Homo sapiens: one gene and its partner. The protein of the gene in region 2 interacts with the protein of the main gene of each other region in a pairwise test. Each region holds a gene or a part of one and is shown on either strand. Other genes may lie near its edges.

Evidence for each region.
Region 1: the proteins of USP5 (region 2) and ENTREP1 interact in a two-hybrid assay, tested with the Homo sapiens proteins (one large-scale study listed by IntAct).

Annotation. Positions count from the first base shown.
Region 1 is NC_000009.12:69,372,791-69,377,982, reverse strand, and holds part of ENTREP1 (endosomal transmembrane epsin interactor 1), read right to left. Parts: intron 2,248-5,192; coding exon 2,119-2,247; intron 614-2,118; coding exon 506-613; intron 373-505; coding exon 239-372; intron 1-238. UniProt on the Homo sapiens protein: Functions as an activator of the E3 ubiquitin protein ligase ITCH in the ubiquitination of the CXCL12-activated CXCR4 receptor. Thereby, triggers CXCR4 endocytosis and desensitization, negatively regulating the CXCL12/CXCR4 signaling pathway.
Region 2 is NC_000012.12:6,861,466-6,865,648, reverse strand, and holds part of USP5 (ubiquitin carboxyl-terminal hydrolase 5), read right to left. Parts: coding exon 4,032-4,183; intron 3,180-4,031; coding exon 3,091-3,179; intron 2,505-3,090; exon of another isoform or gene 2,464-2,504; coding exon 2,272-2,463; intron 1,820-2,271; coding exon 1,676-1,819; intron 1,600-1,675; coding exon 1,454-1,599; intron 928-1,453; coding exon 774-927; intron 486-773; coding exon 401-485; intron 1-400. UniProt on the Homo sapiens protein: Deubiquitinating enzyme that participates in a wide range of cellular processes by specifically cleaving isopeptide bonds between ubiquitin and substrate proteins or ubiquitin itself.

The DNA.
Region 1 (5,192 bases), on a different chromosome or scaffold from region 2:
ATAATTGTTTTTCATTTTTCTAAAGAAGGCTGGCAGAGGTGGACTCTCTAAAAGCCATACCACAGGGTTCACTAGCTGATTTTGTCACTCATTGGGCTAACGTTCCTCAAGTCAGGAAAAATTTTTCTTTTTCTTTTTCAAAGAAAAGTGAGATCTCATGTGGTGAGTTCTGGAGACACTTCAGTCTTCAGAACCCACAGCATCCCACTCAGACTGCAGGGGAACTCAGGAACGATACCTGCGGTTCATCCGGGGTGTGCACGAGTAAAACGTGGCAAAATAGGAAGGGGGAGGCACAGGCGGCACAAAATCATCAGGGTCGGGGATGCGTCCATGATCCTCCGCTTCTTCAGCAGAAATCTGGGATTCATCCTGATTAAACAGCAGCTCAGTTAGTCAACAGCCTTCATTACAAAGGCACGGGGAGAGAGGCAGTGGATGACACGAAGGGGTCCATGGGCTGGCTCAGCGGAAACGTGGCCATGATGCCCTTGCATAGACTTACGATGCAGGATCTCCTGGTTGCGAATATCTGGAGGTAGCGGAGGGCAGCGGCCACCAAGCAGACGGTGGTGGTCAGGGCATTCAAGGCACACAGGGCAAAGAGGACTTTCTGGGGCAAGGAAACAATGGCACCACTAAGTACTTCAACAAACATCACCAGAATACAATGTAGAAAATCTTTAAAATAATAATAACGCTGCCTCCATAAGACAATTCTCAGGAGAGGATGCATGTAAAGGACTTAGATGGTGTTTGGCTCGTGGAAAGTGCCCAAATAAATGCTGGCTATTATTATGACCCTCATGCAATAATGTGTACTTCTTAATTCCAAAAACTTATCTTAGAAGCTTTCTGTCACAGAACAACGTGGTATGATAGTATTTCTTTTTGCAAGCATCAGAATACTGTCGAGAAACATTCCTTCCAGGAGAGCAGTGAGCTTCTCTTCTGAGGCTGATTTCCCCAGGGATAGCAATTCCCAGCCTCCTCCCTCCCACAGCCTCCCACCAGCACAGCACACTGCTTAATTTGTGGCCACTAATTCTATTTCAAGAGCAATTGGCTGTGCTGCCCCATGCACACGACGAGGACACTGAAGGAGCTGGCCCAGCCAGAGTGTAAATAGGACTTCTCTCCACTAAACACACATCTCAAAATAGCAAAGGCCATTCCAAACGCTTCTGTTGGTACAGTCCTGGCTCCTTGAGTGGGGCTTTCCCCAAGCTAAGTCCTGGCTCAGAAAGTTTGGGGGTGACTCAGCTACCAAAAATGCAGAAGCCATGGAAAGCAGGCCATTTCCACATCCCACACAACCCAGAGCTGGTAGCTTGGAACAGTTCTCTCTTTCCTTGGAGATTCTTCCTCCCCACCAAAATGAAACCCAAAACAAATATCTAAAGAAAACCGGCAGAAGTGGACTCTCAAAAAGCCATACCTCAGGGTTCACCAGTTGATTTTGTCACTCACTGAGCTAATGTTCCTTAAGTCAGGGCACAATTTTTATCCAATTCCCTGATGAAGGCTAATTTTGTATTTCTCTTCAACTGGGATCATCTGTTTGTTTAATACCTTTGGCTTATTATAGTTGTTGCTTATTAAACAAGAGCTAAGGTGCTTCAATTCCCCCATATTTTCTGGCCAATCTCTCTCCTTAGTCTACGTGTTGCAGACTGGTAGTACTCAGTGGCCCATATGACCCATGTAAGCAAACAAATGAGCATCAGAACAATGACACACGAGTGTGCGACTTAAAGGTTTTGCTAAAAGCTACACCGTATATGTGTGTGTAGGTATACATATGTACGTATGCATATGTTTATATGTGGAAATATGTGTGTATGTGTATACATATACATATATATAGTCAGGCTCCTTTCCATTTTTTACTATCTTACAGTTCTTCAACACAAAGAAAGCTGTCCATACATAATTTAACACACACAATAATCTGTGGTTCTTTCTGCATTCAATTCTGTCTCTGGGGTCACTCACATGCGCTTTCAGCAGCTTAATTGTTTGAGGGAGGTAATAGAACAGGAATATTTCAAGTAAGTTTGCCTTCTTTGGGGGCTCCGTGGTGTATTTACCGTGCGGGTGGGAATCTGTTTGAGGTACCTTAAGTAGAAGGTGAACAGCACTACAGGGCTGAACCGGAAAGAGTTTCAAGGCATTTTCTTTGTCTGTGCACTTGGCTGGTTGAAATTCTTCACAACAGAAGCAAATCTTGCCTTCACCTAAGTCCACCTTAACGGAGGAAAGGTAAAAAAAAATACTTTAATTATTAAGAAAAAATACCCTGGCTCTACCATGGAGCACCAATCCTGTAGAATGAGATGATGGCAGGGTTCTGTGTCAGGCAATGCCTCTATCAGTCAGGATGGGCTAGGGTATAGCATGGTAACAACCAAAACCTAAATTTCAGTGGCTTTCACAAAACAAAGGGAATTTTAATATTCCTCCTTTCTCCTTTAAAGTCTCCAGCTGAGAACTTCCTGTTTTCATACTAATCCTGTTTAGTACTAACAAACAAGCAGCTAAATGAGATGAAGTATCAGCCTCCATTCTGCTCGTGTACATGAGTCCCACTCTTCCCCAAAAGGAACCAAACTCACTTTTTTTTCCCCAACACAATGCACTCTGATTTTCATTTTTTGCACTTGGTGCAAGCCTCAAGATCTTAACCTGAAAGCTCTATCTCTCTCAGACAATACTAGGCATCATCTTACAAAATATTCCCTTCCCAAACAAGTCCATTCTTGATACAAAGCGTTTAGTTAAGTGGGAAACCAGGCCTATGTGGGCTGCACACACCATATAACATAGATGTCCAGCTCTTCAGAAACTTCAGCTACCTGGCACCTCTGGAGTGAGCCAGTCTGGATGGCAAAATTTTCCAGATGGGTGAAATTCAGTCCCTTTAAACAACCCTATTTGAAAGTTTACTCATTATACAAATGATCACGAATACCAATTAATTTTCCCACTGGATACAAAGAAACCTCAGGCACTGTGCAAAATGATTCCAGGCAACTGTGCACTGTGCGTTCCTTCTCCCCTATTCCTGATCCTTGCAGAATCTAATACCTTCACCTCCATTCTTAATCCCATCTCTGCCCAATATTTCTAAAAACTTATTCTCACTTCTCATCAGTCACTTTAGCCTATCCACAAACAAATTTGTAGAAGTCTCCCTGATCCTAAATAATGAACATCCACCCTGCATTCTTGGTGCTACTGCCTGAAGAGGTCAGATCTTTGTCTTCCCCCTGTCACCTTTCAATAGCAGCATTCTTAATCCTGCCTGTACATTTGAATTTTCTGGAGAGCTTTTTAAAAAATGATGATGCCATCTTAAGCACTCAGGGAACTACAAATTAGAGTGACAGCAAGCTCTCACTCTGGCTTCATCAGACTGGCACAACTTTAAAAAGAGAGAAACTCTCTTTGCTGGTGGAGACGTGGAGAGCCACTGGTAGAAATTCACCAGTCACTGGTGAGTTTAAGCCCTTTAATGAAGGAACTGACTATCCATTTTAAATTAAAAATACTCACTTCCCCAACCACTTTGGAAAACTCTTTAGCACCGCATCATCCAGCAGCTCCGTGCCTAGGTATTCACTCAAGAGAAATGAAAACTGCCTCCCCAAAACAATAATGCTCACAGCAGCTTTGTTCATAATACCCCCAAACTGGAAACAACCTAACTGTCCATCAACAAGAGAACAAAAAAACAAAAAAATTCTGGTATTTTTATAAAATGAAATAGTGTCCTGAAAAAAGGAACAAACAACAGATACAATATAAAAATATGGATGAATTTCAACAACATTACACTGGGCAAAATAAGTCAGACACAAAAACTTTCAAACCGTGTGACTCCATCTACATGAAGTTCAAGGACATGCAAAACTAACCCATGGTGAAAGAAACAGGAACAGTGGTTGCCTATGAGAGAGTAGAGACTGCCTGAAAAGAGACACTAAAGAACTTTTTAGGGTGACAGAAATATTGTTTGGAGTACAACAAACAATATTTTGTTTGGAGTATAGAAATTGTTTGGAGTATAACATGAGTGTATACATTTGTCAAAATGAATGTATACATTGGTCAAAACTTATAATGAACTGCACACTTAAGATTTGTGTTTTTCACTGTAACTTCTACCCCAATTTAAAAGCGATGGATAGAACAATAAAATGGTTGAATTTGTAATAATAAATGAGATAAGCAGGAGAAAAGATACTGCTGAGAACAATTCCTTGTCCTGGGAACCTACTCCGCTTAGGACTAAAATCTCCCTGAGGATATACAGAATGATATTAATGGCAGCACTGTGTCTACTGGTCAAAACCCAAGCCACAACAGGCAATAACAAAATAAGGAACTAACTTGGTAAAAGAAATTAAGGGTGTTAGTCTGTATTTAATCTATCTCTAAGTGATACATCTTTAAGTGATAAAAACAGGATGCAGGGAAGTACATACAATATACCTCATTTAAAAAAAAATCATGAACGACCCCACTCCATACATATTTATGTAAGATTACATGACCATGAAAACATTATGAAATATAATTCCCCAGCCTGTTACTAAGGATTTGGGGTGACAGGTATGGGCAGAGTGGGAAAGAGAAGAGAAGAGCAACCCCTTGCCCAAAAAGGTTTCATTTGTCAGTAATTTCCCCAAAGGAAAACAACACTTACAACATGATCCTGTTGATTATGTCTGTTTTTGTGCATAAAGAGATGCTTAACACATGGCCAAATTGTTATCCAGGGATAGTGGGAATTCAAATGATATTTAAGTTCTGCCTTATACTTTTCATGGCTTGCCCAAACTTTTATAATTATAACATCAGAAATAATCACAGTGTTGGTTTTGTGGTATATATATTCTGATATACAGAATATATAAAGAACTTCTATAACTCAATAACAAAAAAAAAAATAACTCAATTTTAAAATGTGCAAAAGACTTGTATAGACATTCTTCCTTTAATGAAGACATACAAATAGCCAGCAGGCATATGAAGAGACTATCAACATCACTAATCATAAGGAAAATGCAAATCAAAACCAAATGAGGTATCACCTTATACCCATTAGAATGGCCACTTTAAAAAAAAAAAGCAGAAAATAACAAGTGTCAGTGAAGATGTGCAGAAATTGGAACCCGTGTGCACTGTTG
Region 2 (4,183 bases):
GCCGCAGCGTGAAAACAGGCACAAACAACACATAAACAAGTGTGTCCAGGTTCCAGTGAAAATTTATTTACAAAGGCAGGGGGCCTGGCCAGGCACGGTAGCTCATGCCTGTAATCCTAGCACTTTGGGAGGCCGAGGCAGAAGGATCACTTGAGCTCAGGAGTTCAAGACCAGCCTGGGCAACATAGTGAGATCCCATCTCTATTTAAAAAAAAAGCTGGTGGCCAGATCCAACCCTTGGGCCAATCACTGCTGCAAGACCTTCTGTCACTCTCTGGCACTTTATGTCCCCATCAGGCAGTCCCTTCACCTTCTCCCATAGCTATCCCAAGGACTTCCAAATGGCCCTCCTCATTCCCACCACCATTCTCCATTCAAAACGCATGTGGCCAGCACTCACCTGCCTTCTTTCTTGATGTGGCAGACGTAGTGACCACACATGGTAGAGGTGCCCATGTGACTAATGAAGGCAAAGAGCTGATACTCTAGGAAAGGAGAGAGGGGGTCAGAGAAGGAAACAGAAGAGGAATGCTTGAGTGATGGCCCAAAGATCCAGACAACAGCTCAGACTCAGGACAGGAGTTTCAGGGAATGTGAGGCAGGTACTGGGCCAGAGCCTGTCTCCATGTCAGAGAACCCCACCCTCAGATGCCACGTTGAGGTGGAAAGAAGCCCCTGACTCCTGAGGAGGGCAGAGCTGCCTGAATGAGGGATCTGGTGTAGTAGACTGACCAGATTCCACCAGGCCTGTCCTGCTTCCTGGGGATACTCACTTCCAGGACCATCCCGGACTTTAGGTCCCACTGGCACAGACTCAGAGATGGAGTCGGCAGCTGAGCGGCCCTCTGAGATGTCCATGGCAGCTTCAGCATCCAGGTCGTCAATGTGACTGAAGATCCAGTCCACAGCCCGTTCTAAACTATTGTTCTTGGAGAGGAAGGAAGCATTACTTTTTTTCTTGAGACGGAGTCTTGCTCTGTCGCCCAGGCTGGAGTGCAGTGGCGCGATCTCGGCTCACTGCAAGCTCCGCCTCCCGGGTTCACGCCTTTCTCCTGCCTCAGCCTCCCAAGTAGCTGGGACTACAGACGCCCACCACCACGCTTGGTTAATTTTTTGTATTTTTCGTAGAGACGGGGTTTCACCGTGTTAGCCAGGATGGTCTTGATCTGCTGACCGCGTGATCCGCCCACCTCACCCTCCCAAAGTGCTGGGATTACAGGCGTGAGCCACCGCGCCCGGCCAAACAGAAGCATTACATTTTTAACAAGTTCTGGGGCAAAAAACCCAGCAGTGAACGCAGGCTTCAGCTCCTTCATCGCAGCCACAAAAGAGTGGTGCCCAACCTCGGCCAGACCACACCTGTTGTCTTTGGTCTTGCTCAAGAAGGATGGCCCCTCATTCCCACCCCCTTCTTCCCCACTGGCCCCATGTCCTTAGCTGGGGCAGCCCATACCGTGGCCCGCAGCGCTTTCAAGGCCTGGTCCCGGGAGAAGCCCATGGAGACAATGGTGGTCACACAGTCCTCAGGAGGGGGGTCGGCTGCTGCGCTTGTGGAGCCCGGCCCACTAGAGCCAGGCAGGATGAGGGGGTTTGCAAAATCTGTGGATGTGAAGGGGTTGATGTGTTTGGGGGAGGATGGAGGCCCTGCCCCACCCTGCTCCCCACCCCAGCCTACCTGGATCATCCATGTGTGACATGACCCAGTTCATGGCGGCCTCAGCCCCGCTGTTGCCCGTGTAGTAGACAGCTTTGCGGCAGGCGTCCATAGGGAATCCCATCTCCACCAGCTGGATGATGACTGATTCATCCAGCATGGGCGCTGTAATGGGAATTGTGGGTACACGGACCGACTGATTGGGCCACTGTTTGCTCCTCCTCCCTCCCCCAGGACCCAGCCCTCTTCCAATCACCCATTCCATGCATTTTTCTCCCATGGATTGGCACCTTATCCCAAAACCAAAATGACCACACAATTGTAATGTGGGTCCCTGCCCATTCTCACAGAATGGGCCCTGTTTCTGGAGCATGATACCCCCACCCTACCCAAACCAGGGAGGTAACAAGGGCAGAGAGGCCACTAGCTGGCACTGCTGCCATCCACACCCAGAAGGTGGCTAGGAGTGCGCTGGGGAGGCCCCATGTCAATCAAAGAGGGCAGAGGAAATTTGAAAGGGAGGACAGGAGAAACACAAAGGACAGGGGCAGGGGATGCAAGGCAGAGAGGCCCCCATCAGCACGGGAGAGAGACAGGCAGGAAGAAGAGTCACTAACATGTCGGAGAGGAGAAGTGAGGGGAGCAGAAGGAGTCTTCGTCTTCGTTGCCATAGAAACCAAGGCTACCTTTGGGCTCATCCGGAGTGACCAGGGGTGGGGCAATGTCTGGCAGCTCCTCCTCTCCGGGCTGCAGCCCTGTGCCCCTCAACTGGGAGATGTCGAGCTCCTCTGGCATCTCGATGGACACATCTGTGGGAAAAGGGTCACCTCAGCAGCTCCCGGAGGCCTACCTGGAAAGTGATTCGGGAACCTCAATCCCCTGCCCCCTATGTCAGAACTGCTCTGTAAAGAGGAGCTGCTAAAAGCACGGCACCCATCTTAGGGGTCCCAGTATAAGACAAATAATACTAAGCCTGGGAGTTGGGAGGCCAGGATGCTGGTCCTAGATCTACCATAAATAATCTATGGACAGGGCAGGGGGCCTAGAACTTGTGAGACAGAATGATTTTATATTCCTGTGAGTCTCAACTTCCTTATCTAGAAAATGAAGGTACATCACGAGTTCTCAAATGACAGTCAGGGACCTGTAAGACTCACGAGAATTAATTGTTTCAAGATTATCAAAATGAAAACATTTTACCAATTATTTTAAAAAACTACAAAAATCACTTTTGGTTGTAAATCATACCTATAACAATCAAAGAAGTCTTTTAATATTTTTAGTTAGTGCTTTCAAACTAGATAAATTTTGAAACATTGAAGGTGATTTTTTTTCCTCTTTCAGAGGAAACTTTGAGAAACACTAGTTTATATGTGTTAAAGCCCCTTCTTTTTCTAGCATTTTCTGTGTAACCTCCCTCATTCCAGCAGCCATACCCAGTTTCTTGGGCACCCAGTCTAAGCCGAAGGTGAACTTCTTGATCTGGATGACCAGGTAGTCAGGGAATGAGGCAAATCGTGTGGTCCTAGGGAAGAGAGACTGTGCTGGTACCCAGACAATCCCCAGGGTTTTCCTCTCCTGAAACTCCCACCTGGGGTTCAGCCCCTCATGGGTAGAAGTCCCAATAACCCAGAAGATCCTCCATATTCTTCTCTTCCCCTGGGCAGGTGTCTGATGCCTGTCCTCGGCCAACGAGGAGCAGTAGAGGCCAGAAGGAAGGCTGTCAACAAAAAAAAGAAAAAGAAAAAAGCCCAGGCATGGTGGCTCATATCTGTAATTCCAGCACTTTGGGAGGCCAAGGCAGGACGACTGCTTGAGCCCAGGAGTTAAGAGACCAACCTGGGCAACATAGCAAGACCCACACGTAGGGAAAAAAACATAGCAAGACCCACACATAGAAAAAAAAAAAAAACCCACACAGAGAGGAAGAGCTGTTTCACTGGCAGGAGCAGCAAAGGGCTGGGTAGCTGACTCCCCGAGACCAAAGCCCTTTTTCAGGTCTCACACCCATGCCAGGTGCCAATGGCTAGGCTCAAAGTGTGGCTATTTGCTGGAAATCCAAATTCTGCCCACAGCTGATCCTAAGTGCCTGTGCTCAGCCATGACTGAGGGGCAATGAAGAGAGGCTACACTACAAAGAGACCCTGTGCCACAGAAGAGGGAGTGGTTGGGGCAGGACAAGGTGACAGATAGAGTCAGTACCCGTGTCCCCCCTACCAGGGCCCCTTGGTTCCATCAGGGCCAGATTACCAGCCCAACTGATTCAACCCTGAGGTTCCAACCACAAAGGGATGAAAGAACAGGGAAGAGACAGAAGTATCCTCTGGGATAGCTCTGCCATAGACCCACAGCCTCAGGCCCCGACCAGAGGACTTACTTGACAGCTACTGACTTGGCCTGCAGGGCCGTGCTCCAGAAGTCATCGACCTGCTCAGGGGCCCCGTAGGCCTCCAGGCAAGAGCTGAAGGGCACCTGGGCCCGAACCAGTTCTGGCAGTGCCATCTTCTCCTCTTCGGCTTGCCGCTTCTT